2 separate regions of the Homo sapiens genome follow, and region 2 is linked to region 1. Evidence: fine-mapped expression QTL. A gene starts in region 1. The other region holds a variant in brackets. All regions are shown on one strand. Distances are between the middles of the regions. Region 1 holds the start of RBMS1 (RNA binding motif single stranded interacting protein 1). Region 2 overlaps RBMS1 (RNA binding motif single stranded interacting protein 1).

The links. PIP is the estimated chance that this variant, and not a neighbour inherited with it, causes the effect.
Region 2: its variant is the best candidate, but not a certain one, in a credible set for the expression of RBMS1 in NK cells (Gilchrist 2021, PIP 0.81).

Annotation. Positions count from the first base shown.
Region 1 is chr2:160,491,259-160,496,640 of GRCh38, forward strand. RBMS1 (RNA binding motif single stranded interacting protein 1) reads right to left here and starts at 2,549. Exons shown (of 14, transcript NM_016836.4): 1 at 2,031-2,549. The coding sequence starts at 2,105. RefSeq lists an enhancer at 2,090-2,610 and a silencer at 2,797-2,976.
Region 2 is chr2:160,287,440-160,292,821 of GRCh38, forward strand. All of the region lies in intron 6 of RBMS1 (RNA binding motif single stranded interacting protein 1), which reads right to left. Among named protein-coding and RNA genes, the nearest start is that of LINC02478, 18 kb to the left of the region's middle. The variant T/C (reference allele first, on the strand shown) is at 2,344.

The DNA.
Region 1 (5,382 bases):
GTTATATAGGTCAAGTGAGTATGTATACCTTTCTCCAGAAACAAAGGAATTCCGAATAATAGGATTTCAGATTTAATTGTAGAATTAGCAAAATGTTTTGAGAATGTCATTTACCGCAACACAAATCAATATTAAATGCTTTATGCAGGAAGCACACTTTCAGAAAATGGGCCGTAAAGCTTTCTGGGATCCGACCCTAATTACTAGAGCAGGCTCTTGCCGTTTGTCTCTCTCTTCAATTATTTACAGGGCAAAAAAGCCAAATGGCATTGCATTAGCTACATTAAATGGTATGGACTTGGTTTCTAACTTACTAATGGTATATAAAAATTACTAAGGTAAATGTGCCTGTAGAAACATGGCTTTTTTTCTTCCTCACCTGAGTGGGTGTATTTATTATTCATATTGTTAAGTGTTGAATAAGCTGTCCTTTAGGCACCCAATGCTGCATAATTTAAACAAGTGCATTAAATATATAAGATATCTAAAAGGTAGTGCATTGATTATGCCACAAAATTTCTTTGAACAGCTACCATGTAGCTCACAGAAAACTAGCATCTCCTGCAAGTTCCTAAAACAAATACTGTGAGAACTACACAGAGATGAATAAGGGGTATCCTTGCTGCTACCATCTTGCTGCTTTCTGGTGACCCAAAGTAAAGTGGGAATTGGGGGAAGTGAAAATGAGGCCCGGGATTGCTAGGACATTTCTGGTCTCGAAACTGACAAGTGTCCTTTTTACGTAGACAAATACAGGGCTATGTCGTAAGTACATGAAAACGTGGACCACACACATTCTAAGAAAGAAAAGGCTGAATCAGAGATTCTTTGTACCAGGCCGGAAATGCCCAACTACCAGCAAGCAGAGCATGATTACAACCTCCCAAAGAAAGTTCGGACACTGCATCCATACCTGATTCTTTTGTGATCTAGAAGGGCACCCAGAGTTGTGATAGATGTTAATGGCTGAAGAAGGCTGCTGCGTCCAACTTCCACCCTCCCAAATTCTGGCGGCTGCTTCCAAAGCAGTGAAATTTCCAGTCTTCATGGCCCAAATAATTTTTTTAAATGAGTTCGGGAGGCATCAAATTCTTATTGTAAAAATAAGATAGGCCCACTAACAAAGTACCCAGGGTCCCTAGAAAGCCAGGCGCAATTTGTATGGCTACATGTCATCAACTGTTGTTACCCAAGAGTGTGCCGAGGTCACTTTTTAAAAAGCAACATTGGAAATCGATCTGTGGCAAACATATAAGCTAGTTTTGTTTTTGTTTCTTTTTTAACCAAATACGAAGTCACTTCTTTCTCTGCACTGAAATCTGCCCATTGTCCCTCCTTTGCAAAACCTCTAGAGATTAGAAGGGACATCAATGAACGCGAGTGAACTTTGGCCACTTTTCTACCCAAAACACCAGCGTAAAAGTAGAAATCAGTAACCAGGTGAAGTGCCACACCGCACAAAGATCAGAGGCGAGGGGCGGGCGCTCAGGGCCGGAGGCGGGGAGGAAAATATCCCGGCCCCGCCGCCCCTCCAGCCCCAGTCATCGCGTGCGCGGGAGGTGGAGGGGCGTCCCTGGGGGGCGGGAGGCTCCGCGCCACGGCGAGGGGAGCGAAGAGTTACAGCTTACAGGGCGAGGCCCTTGGAGAAGGGGTCGAAAAGCCGGGCCACCAGCGGATCCAGACGCGCACACCAGGCGACGGCCGCCGGCCAGCCAGGGCTCGGCGAGGGGCGCCGCTCGACCCCACGACCCTCCCCGCTGGCCGGGCCAGGAAGGGGCTGGTGGCTCTTTCCTGTCTAGTCTCTCCCCCCGCGGCTTTCTGTAACCCGATCCCCGCACTCCGCTCCCAGGGAAGCCGCCGCCCCGCGCGCCGCCCGGCTCTGCCCAGGCCAGCGCTATAGTTAGCAACCTTCCAGCAACTCCGCCCGGCGGTGGCGGGGGTTCGCCGCGCGCCCCCCTCCCCAGGCCTGACCCTGCGCGCGTCCCCGGGCCCCCTCCTCCGGCCGTCACCTCTCCCCGGCGCCCCTTTACCTTGGCTTGCAGATACTGGGGGTAATAGTAGGTGGCGTACTGAGGGTACATCTGCTGTTTCCACACTTTGCCCATGAAGCTGGAAGGGAGCCTGCCGTGCAGGGTCGCGGACACTTTGGGGTTTCCAAGTCTCGGGCTCTCCTGCCTCTCCCTTTCCGGCGGCGGCGGCAGCGGCGGCGGCGGCGGCGGCTGCTGCTGCTGCCGCTGCTCCACCTCCCAGCCGGGACCAGACGTCCTCCTCCTCCTCCTCCTCTTCCTCCTCCTCCTCCTCCTCCTCCTCCTCTTCCTCCTCCTCCTCCTCCTCCCAGGCAGAAAGAAAGACACTGCAGAGCGCAGAGGGCACCCCGGACAGGGCGCTCCCAAGGAGTTTCCTCCCGGAGCCCGACTGCTCCGGGGCTGCCAAGGGCTGGCGCGCTGGCCGCGGTCCGCTCGGGCGAGCCGGCTGCGCGGGGCTGAGAGGTGATCAATACAAGTGGAAAGTGCGGCAGCGGCGGCTGCGCTTGGTGCCAGGCGGCATCTGGGGTGGGTGCGCCCGATGTGGAGAGAGGAGAGGGGCTGGCGTTCCGAGGCCGTGGGGGAAGGGCGGGCGGGGGCGGGGCCTGGGCGCCGCCGAGCCCGGGACCCGCTGGAGGTGAGGGCTGAGTTTTAACCACTCCTCACCTCCCAGGCTCGCGGTTGGACGGGCGGAAGCCCTGTGAGTCCAGATCGCTTTGTGTCGGGGGTGGGGAAATGGGAGTGGGAGTGGGGGTGGAGGGGGAATGCGGGGGGACCCAGCTTAAGAACTGCAGGGCGGGCACCTCTTTTGCTTTCCCGAGTTTTTATCTTCGTAAGGGGGAGGGGAAATAAGGGAAAAGAGGAAATCTGATTAATCGTTCACTTCCCACCGCCCAGTAATTTTTTTTCACAAGGGAAGGAAAATGATTTAATGCCCAACAAAGCTGGAGTCTGGACACCTGGGTTCTGTTCCTCCCACCCACCCCCGACCCGGGGCCACAAGACTAATCTAGGTGACCTTGGGAGGGTTAGCGTCCTTCGGTTTGGTTTTCCCAGATGTGAGACGTGAAATCATGCCCCTTGCACAAGGGGAGGCAAAGCACATACATACATACACACACACACACACACACACACACACCCCTCACAACATATAGACGGATCCTTCTAAGAGGGGGATGCCGCAAAGAGGCAGAATGTTATTAGAGGACACAATATAGACATCAGCTTTTCTCTGCCTCTTTCTAATGCTGCCAGACAGTCTGTCAACTCCCACTCAGGAGCAAGGAAACTCCCTGAGTTTGGAATATTTTAAGGCCATTTTGAAAGTCACGCTGGCATATTGTTGCAGTGTGCTTCAGTGACATATAAAATCAATCTCTCTTTCTGCCTCTCTCCATCTCCTAATTGTCACAGCTCTAGACAGCCTCAGACCAGCAGTGGTTCAGTTCACTACATAACTAGATATAATTTAATGGAATTAATTGGTCCCCGAAGCTGCCTGCAGAAGACTTTTATATTCCAGCTCAAAAAGAGAGCTAATACCAAAATGTACATACGGATAGCATAGGTAAGCAAGCATCCTCAAATTAGGGTTCCGGCACATCTAATAAAATGTAATAAAAAACTGTGTTTGTTATTAAATAGACCTTGTTTACTTTGTCATTTTGGTTTTTGAAGAGTCTTTTGTTAATAGCACAAGGTAAATTAAACTCAACTGGAATGCATTATTTTGTTAAACAGTTATTATTTTTATATGATAACATTTTAAAATAGGTTTAGTAAGATACTTTAAAACAATGACAAAATAAGGACCTGAAACCCTTATAATCGTTCTATGGTTTAGACAAATTTCTAGATCTTACATGTTTGACAAAAACAAAATAAATATAAGTATAGGTGAGAACATTTTGGCTCTGCCAGGAGGCAAATCATGTCCCTCTCATTTACCTATGTAAAAGCCTATAAGGAAGCTAATATTTACTATGTCTGCTATATTGTAGGCACTGTTGAGGTGCATGCAGACCTGAAAAGTGGAATGGGTCACTGTCAGACTAGGGGAGCCTAAAATATTTCCCATATTGTTTCAATGTGGGGCCTTTTAATGTTTTTAAACAGGGAACTGACATGAACTAAATTGTGCTTTAGGAAGACTAGGAATGATGGTTTGGAAGAGTGACAGAAGGAAGAGAAGTAAATCGAGAACAATCGCAGAAGTTCTAGGTTTGAGGTAATAAGGGAAACTACCAAACTTAGACTGTTCTACTTACTGTTTTTTCTGGATGATGGAAATTCAGCCTGTTTTAGAGAGCCCAAAAGCAGACCTACACTTGTATAGACACTTGATTTATGACTGAGTTGGTATTATAGCGCAGTGGAGAAAGAATGAACTTTTCAATAAATGATTCTGGGTCAACTGGCAATCATATGGAAAAAATGAAATGGGAGCCCTGCCTCACACATACCAAGGGAGGAGGGTGGAAAATTGAGGTGAATCATGACCTGGATGTGAAAAACAAAAGTATAAAGCTGTTAGAAGACAATATAGAAGAATACCTTTTTGACCCTGAAATAGGAAAGATTGGTTAAATAAGGGGAACAACAGTGTAAGATTGACAGATTTGACTGTTAACATTAAGAACACTGGTTCATTGAAGGATTTTATAAAAAGCGATAAAAGCCACTAAATACCTGTAATACATATAACACAAAAGGTTAGTATACAGAATGTATAAATAATCAATAAAAAAAGAGAACTTGTTAGAATATGAACAAAAGAATGAATGTGTATTTCACAGAAGCACAAATATTCAGAAAACATATAAAAAGATGCTCAAGTTCATTAGTAATAAGAGAAATGCAAATTAAAATAATACTACTATACCATTTCATATTCACCGGATTTGCAAAAATTAAGAACTCTAAAAATATTAAGAGTAGGTAAAAATGTGGAAGGGGGGAAATCTGAAAACACTGCTTCCTGGAGGAAGTATAAATTGGTCTAACCACCACTTTAGAAAACAATTTGGCATTCCTGAATTTCATTTGCATGTTTCCTACAACACAGTAACAGGTACGTACCTTAAATAAATTATTTTATATGTGCACCAGGAGAAATATACAGGAATGTTCATAATATGCAGAAAATAACTCAAATGTCTACCAACTGTAGAGTGGATTAAAAAGGTTTTAGTATATGCACACATTGGAGTCGTTGCAGAAACAGAAATGAATAAGCTGCAGTTAAAAGCATCAACATGGATCATTTCAAAACTGATGTTGAATGAAAAAGGCAAGTCAACAGAATGCATAAAGCATGATTCCATTTGTATGAAGTTCAAAAACAGAAAAAATAACT
Region 2 (5,382 bases), 200 kb before region 1:
CCTCCCCTCCCCCAACTTAAAATGGTCCCTTAGCGTCCCATTATAATTCCTAAGAGGGACCCTTCACTTCTCCCAGTAGAAAACAAGCCACCTCTACACTGCTCGCACATATATTTTTATTCACAATTTGTAACAATTGGTGAGTATGTTTACTTGCTTGGTGTCTGTTTCCCCTTCTAGGCTATACGCCCCATGGGGGCAGTAACATTGTCTGTTTTGTCTATCACTGTATCCCCAGTGCCTAAGTGTCTGGACTTTGTAGTTGCTTATTACATCTTGGTTGCATCAGTGAATGAATAGAAATAGGTCTCATATGTTTATTTTTGGGATACGTCAGTGAAGATGGCTGTTGTGAGAAAGCTAAAAATACTTGTCCACCCTATTTAAAGGTTTTTCTGTGCCTTTAATCATACAACTGGGTATTGCTTTACTATATATCTATATACCACTATATATAGATCTGTATATTATTACTATATTACTTATAATATATATTACTATATACCTATACATTTATATAAATTCTTCTTACAGAATCCATGAGGCCAAAACAGAAAAGCAGAAGATGTAGAGAATATTTTCAAAGATATATACTCATTAGAGTTAAAAAAAAAAAAAAGTCTACAGACAGCACAATAGGGCACCAGTAACTTTTCCTTTTCTTTGCTTTTCTGCAATGGAAATAGCAGTGTATTCCAGAAAGTTGTGCATTTTTCTGTGTTTCTAGTTAATGTAATAAAGGCAATCACACCTTCCTGTCTGGTTCCCACATTCTGTCCTTTGTCTACTGTAGAACCATGATTACTACTTTCAAGTTCTGTTTCAAAGTTAAATAACCACGAAGAGAAAAATATTACTTGTGGAAAATTTACTCCTTTCTCCTGTGCCTCTTATTATCCTAATTCATCTCTTATTTTATTTCATGATTACCCACCCACTAATGACAGGGTGGAAGCAGTAGTGTCTTTCAACACTTCTCTGCCAAAAAACAAAACAAAAGAAAACAAAAAGCCCAACTGTAACTCCTTCTGGGTGAGCTGTCTGGGCTGCTGCCTGGCACTCCTTTCTTCTTTCCCTGGTGTGAACCACTCTGGAGGGATGGGTTGGAATGCCAACTCACTTCTGAATGACAACTGGACTATGGGTATGACGAGTCAGGAACAAAAATGTTAGGTGTCTGGTGAGACTATCAGCAAGCCTTGGCCCAGATCTAGAGAGGTTTATCCACTGACATTTGAGGTTGTAAGATGTTGACTCCACATAATCTCGTAGAGCAAGAGAGAAGATAATAAATTTGGTGGTGCTGGTACATAGTGGGTCTTCTCTAAAACGAGGTGCTTTTATCTAGAGGGTTTATGAAAACTAGGTCCTAGACTGAAATTTAACCTTTTTTTTGTTTTTTTTAAAGAAGTTACTTGGCTCAGCAAGTGATCCCAACTGGCCGTTTTTCTCTATTAGCATAATTTCTTTCAGAGACAGTAAATGATCAGGTTGGACTCATTCTAGAAGTTCAGTGCAGGCCACCTAAACAGGCAGGTGTGAATAAAAGCAGGTAAGCAGCCAGACCCTGATGCCTGCCTAAGCTCAACATGTGCTGAATGACCAAGTGTCCCCATCTGTGGATAAGGTGCTTCTAACACATTTTCCTTCATCTAGACTCCAGCCTGTCAAAGAAAAAAAAAATCTCAGGTGACAATAAAGCCTGCTAAAAATGCATAACAAGGAGGTAAACATCAAGGGAGTGATGACATGTTTGCAATTAGATCATTTAAAATAAACAAATGGAAGAGGATATAGCTGAACCTTTCAAAAAATGAATTATATTTACTACATGATTCTATGCTGTCATTAAGCTATTTTTTCCCCGCTAAAAGCAAAAAGGGAAGTAGTTACAACAGTTTGTATACTGGCAGGCATTTCATATCTTAGGAAAACAAGCTTTTTAAGAATTATAACCAGTAAAAATGACACATTTCTGAGATAGTTGCTGGCTGCTTGTTTCAGGGAAATGGGAGTACCCCAATATTCCATGTGAAGCAATATAAAATTCTAACAGCTTTCCTCTTTAAAATTCTCTTTGGTCTATTTAACCATCAAAATTTTAACTTAATGTCCACTATGTGCCAAGTACACAAGAGCTGGGGATACAGTGGTAGATAAAACAGGGTCCTTGCCTCCCTGGGGCTTGCAGTTTAATGGAGAAAAGAGTGTACCTAATCTCATGAAAACCCATTTAGTCATTTATGGAACAGAGCATTGTTTTTAGAGGTATTTGTTTTCAATAAAAATGCTAACCAGAAGCAAAATACTTTTGATGCAGAAACAGCTGTATTTCTTTGACAA[T/C]TGCTGTTCCATTTATTTGAAGGACATTATTAGAAACAGCTTCTCCCTATAAGTTCTTAATGTTTTATTCATTACAAAGATTGTCCATGTGCCCTAGGAAAGCAAATTACATCAAGATTTAAGAAATTTTTAGGTATTTTAGGGTGGCAAAAGGGCCTGACTTATTGTAATTGATATGTGGTCTTACCATGATGTTGAGCAAGGGTTAGATGATCTGTTAGATTTTTGGGTAGGAAAAACAAACAAAACACACTGATGTCATGACCCACTTATTTTTAAGTGTGTGTGAGCGTGTTACAAAATGAGAGATCCTCATTTGGCCAGCATCTCCTGTGGCTTCTACCAAACCAGCGGTAGTCCCTAGTTTGCCTTTTGGAGCTGAATATACAGGTTACAGGTTGAAGAATCAGGAGATCCTATGTGACAGTAGCTTGTTCTATAGAGCGTACCTTTCAGCTGAACTCCAATTGTTTTTTACAAGGGAGAGATACCGGAAGACTGACATGCAGAAAAGGAAGTGCCATAAATACTAGTCATATGACTTTGAGTGATATGTAAGTTTGGCCAAATTAATATAAAAATTAATATGTAACTGTCAATCTTCTATATGCATGGTTACTTTTCCAGATTAGCAACTTTTTACCTTATTCTGCAAAGCAGTGATTACAAATAATTCTGACAAATGATTTGTGATTTAAGATGTATTCCTGTGTTAAAGTACTATAAAAATGATATAACCTACCCTTAAATCAACTGATTTTGCCAAATATGCAGAGCATTCTAGGTTAAATTTCCCCTTAATTAGTTGTGATCTTTTGGGTTTGTAAAGGGATTCTCATTCTCATCACCCAAAACTAAAGAGTTATTTTCCTGTTCATCAGAACCAACAGGAACATGCATCTCCAACAGCTTGACAACTGCAGTGTTACCTTGAGCATTTGTTAAAGGCCCCAGGCAACACTGCAATGCAAACACTGATCTAATATTTTCCGGCATCTCTTAAGAGCCATCTAAGGTAATCATGTCACTGGATTCTCCAGTGTGCTCTCAACAGAGCTTTGAGAGTGGGATGGTCTCTTACACAAGCTTGATTTTGTGGTACTGACAATCCTTCCTGAGACTGTGAGCTCCATGGATAAGGCTCAGGCTGACTTGCTGCCCATCTCCACCGAGTATTTTCCTTACCGATCTTCTGAAACTTAACTCTACAGTGATTTGTGCTCCAATGTCTTTCTTTGATATTTGTACTAAAAAATCACTTCTAGAATGCCTGCTCTGAGTAAGCACTGTAGCTCATGATGAGATCTGCAAGTCCTCCTCACTTATCAAACAGCTTGGAAGGACTTGGAGCTCTCTAGAGTTTGTAACAGAACTGATCTTTTCCTCAGCAGGTTCTAACGAAGGTCTTCTCCGTGCTTTTCCCTGTCAGATGCTGACAGCAGTTAACAGGTGGAGAAACTGTCACTTCCAAACTTCCATCTTTCTAGTTATGCTGTATTTTATCCTAATCAAAACACTGTAAAATGTAAACTGCCCTTGATAGAAGCTTCCCTATCCACTGTGGAAAACTAGTCCACTCAGCAACTGTAATTAGCTTTCTTTCTGATAATGTTGGCTACTTTCAACACTCCTCAACTCACAAAATGCAAGGAACTAGCTGCTGCTTTTAAAACATTTCAATAAGGATCCAATAAATATTATCTATTTTTTATGGGCACAACATCGTTTCCTGTTTTAGCCCTCTCCTTTTCTAACTGAATTCTGTTGACCTATTCAACCACTAGGAAGAGCTACAGCTTTTCTCTGTGGACGTTCTTCCTCCCGAGGCTGTTTAGGTTTCTCCTCCTCCCCTGTGCCTTAGGTAGTGTTTCTATCTCCAACCCAGTTTGAGAAGAGAGTAACATTTGTAATATCGTCATGTTACAATCATGTTACCTGATTATATATAGTCATGCTTTGCTCCTGCTGGGTTTGAGTTTTCTTCTTATTGAAATTCTCCTTCACCTCACTTCCCAACCCATCAACTAAGAGTTGTTTATCAGTAAAACAATGATTTGACAATATTAAAGTCATGTTAAATACAAAACAAAAACTCCATACCTCCCATGACTCCAACAAACATCTTTTAATTTTCTATATTTACTACTTTTCTAAGTCTATGTAGAGCCATTTATTTTTCACATTTGCAATGATAGGTCCTTTTCTTCTACCATTTATGTTGTGGGTCCTTCTCTACCTTGTTTAATGGTGACATAGTATTTTATTTGCATAGTTTATTATTGTAACTAACACCGCAGGAACATCTGTGTGTGGATCTTAATCTTTTTTAATTCCAGTGCCAACTGCTATAGTGGTGGGTGTACTGTATGGTGGTATTCTAACCAGTATTCTAACTGGCTCATAATTAGTCTCCAAGGGTTTAAAATTCTGCTTTTGTATTTACTAGCTAGTGACTCCGGGAAAGTTATTCAATGTCTCTGGTCTCATAATCTCTGAAATGGGGATGATAATAGTGCCTACTTCAAAAGATTGTTATAGTTAACATAATAAGTGCTTAGAAGAGCTAGTGTTCTTAACTACTGTGGCAACAGGGGGAGCTCAAACTTTTGAATTATGGCTCCTCCTCTTGTTTTCAAATGAAGAAAAATTCTCAGGAGAGGGACACTTCTGGTTCAGAAGGTCTAAACACTTGGGGACTGGCCTGTTATCCATGGGATTTGAATCTGAGAGATTTAAGGAGCTGGCTAGAGTTGCTGCCTTGGCTTCTTACAGAATGAAGAAATGTTGAAGTTATAGTTAAGGATAAAGTTACTGGTCAATGTCTTTTAGAAAACTGTTACACAATAACACCTACAACTTCTACCCAAGAGCCTTGTGCTTTAATAAAATCTTACTCCACTATTTACTCCTCACTGGCAGAACCTGATCGTGAAAGGGTGTAAAATGTTGATTTGTGAGGCTGGCTGTAGGCTGGGTGTGATCGATGGTGATAATTGTTGTAAGGCAGCCTCACCATAAGCCTGGTGTGGGGACTAGAAC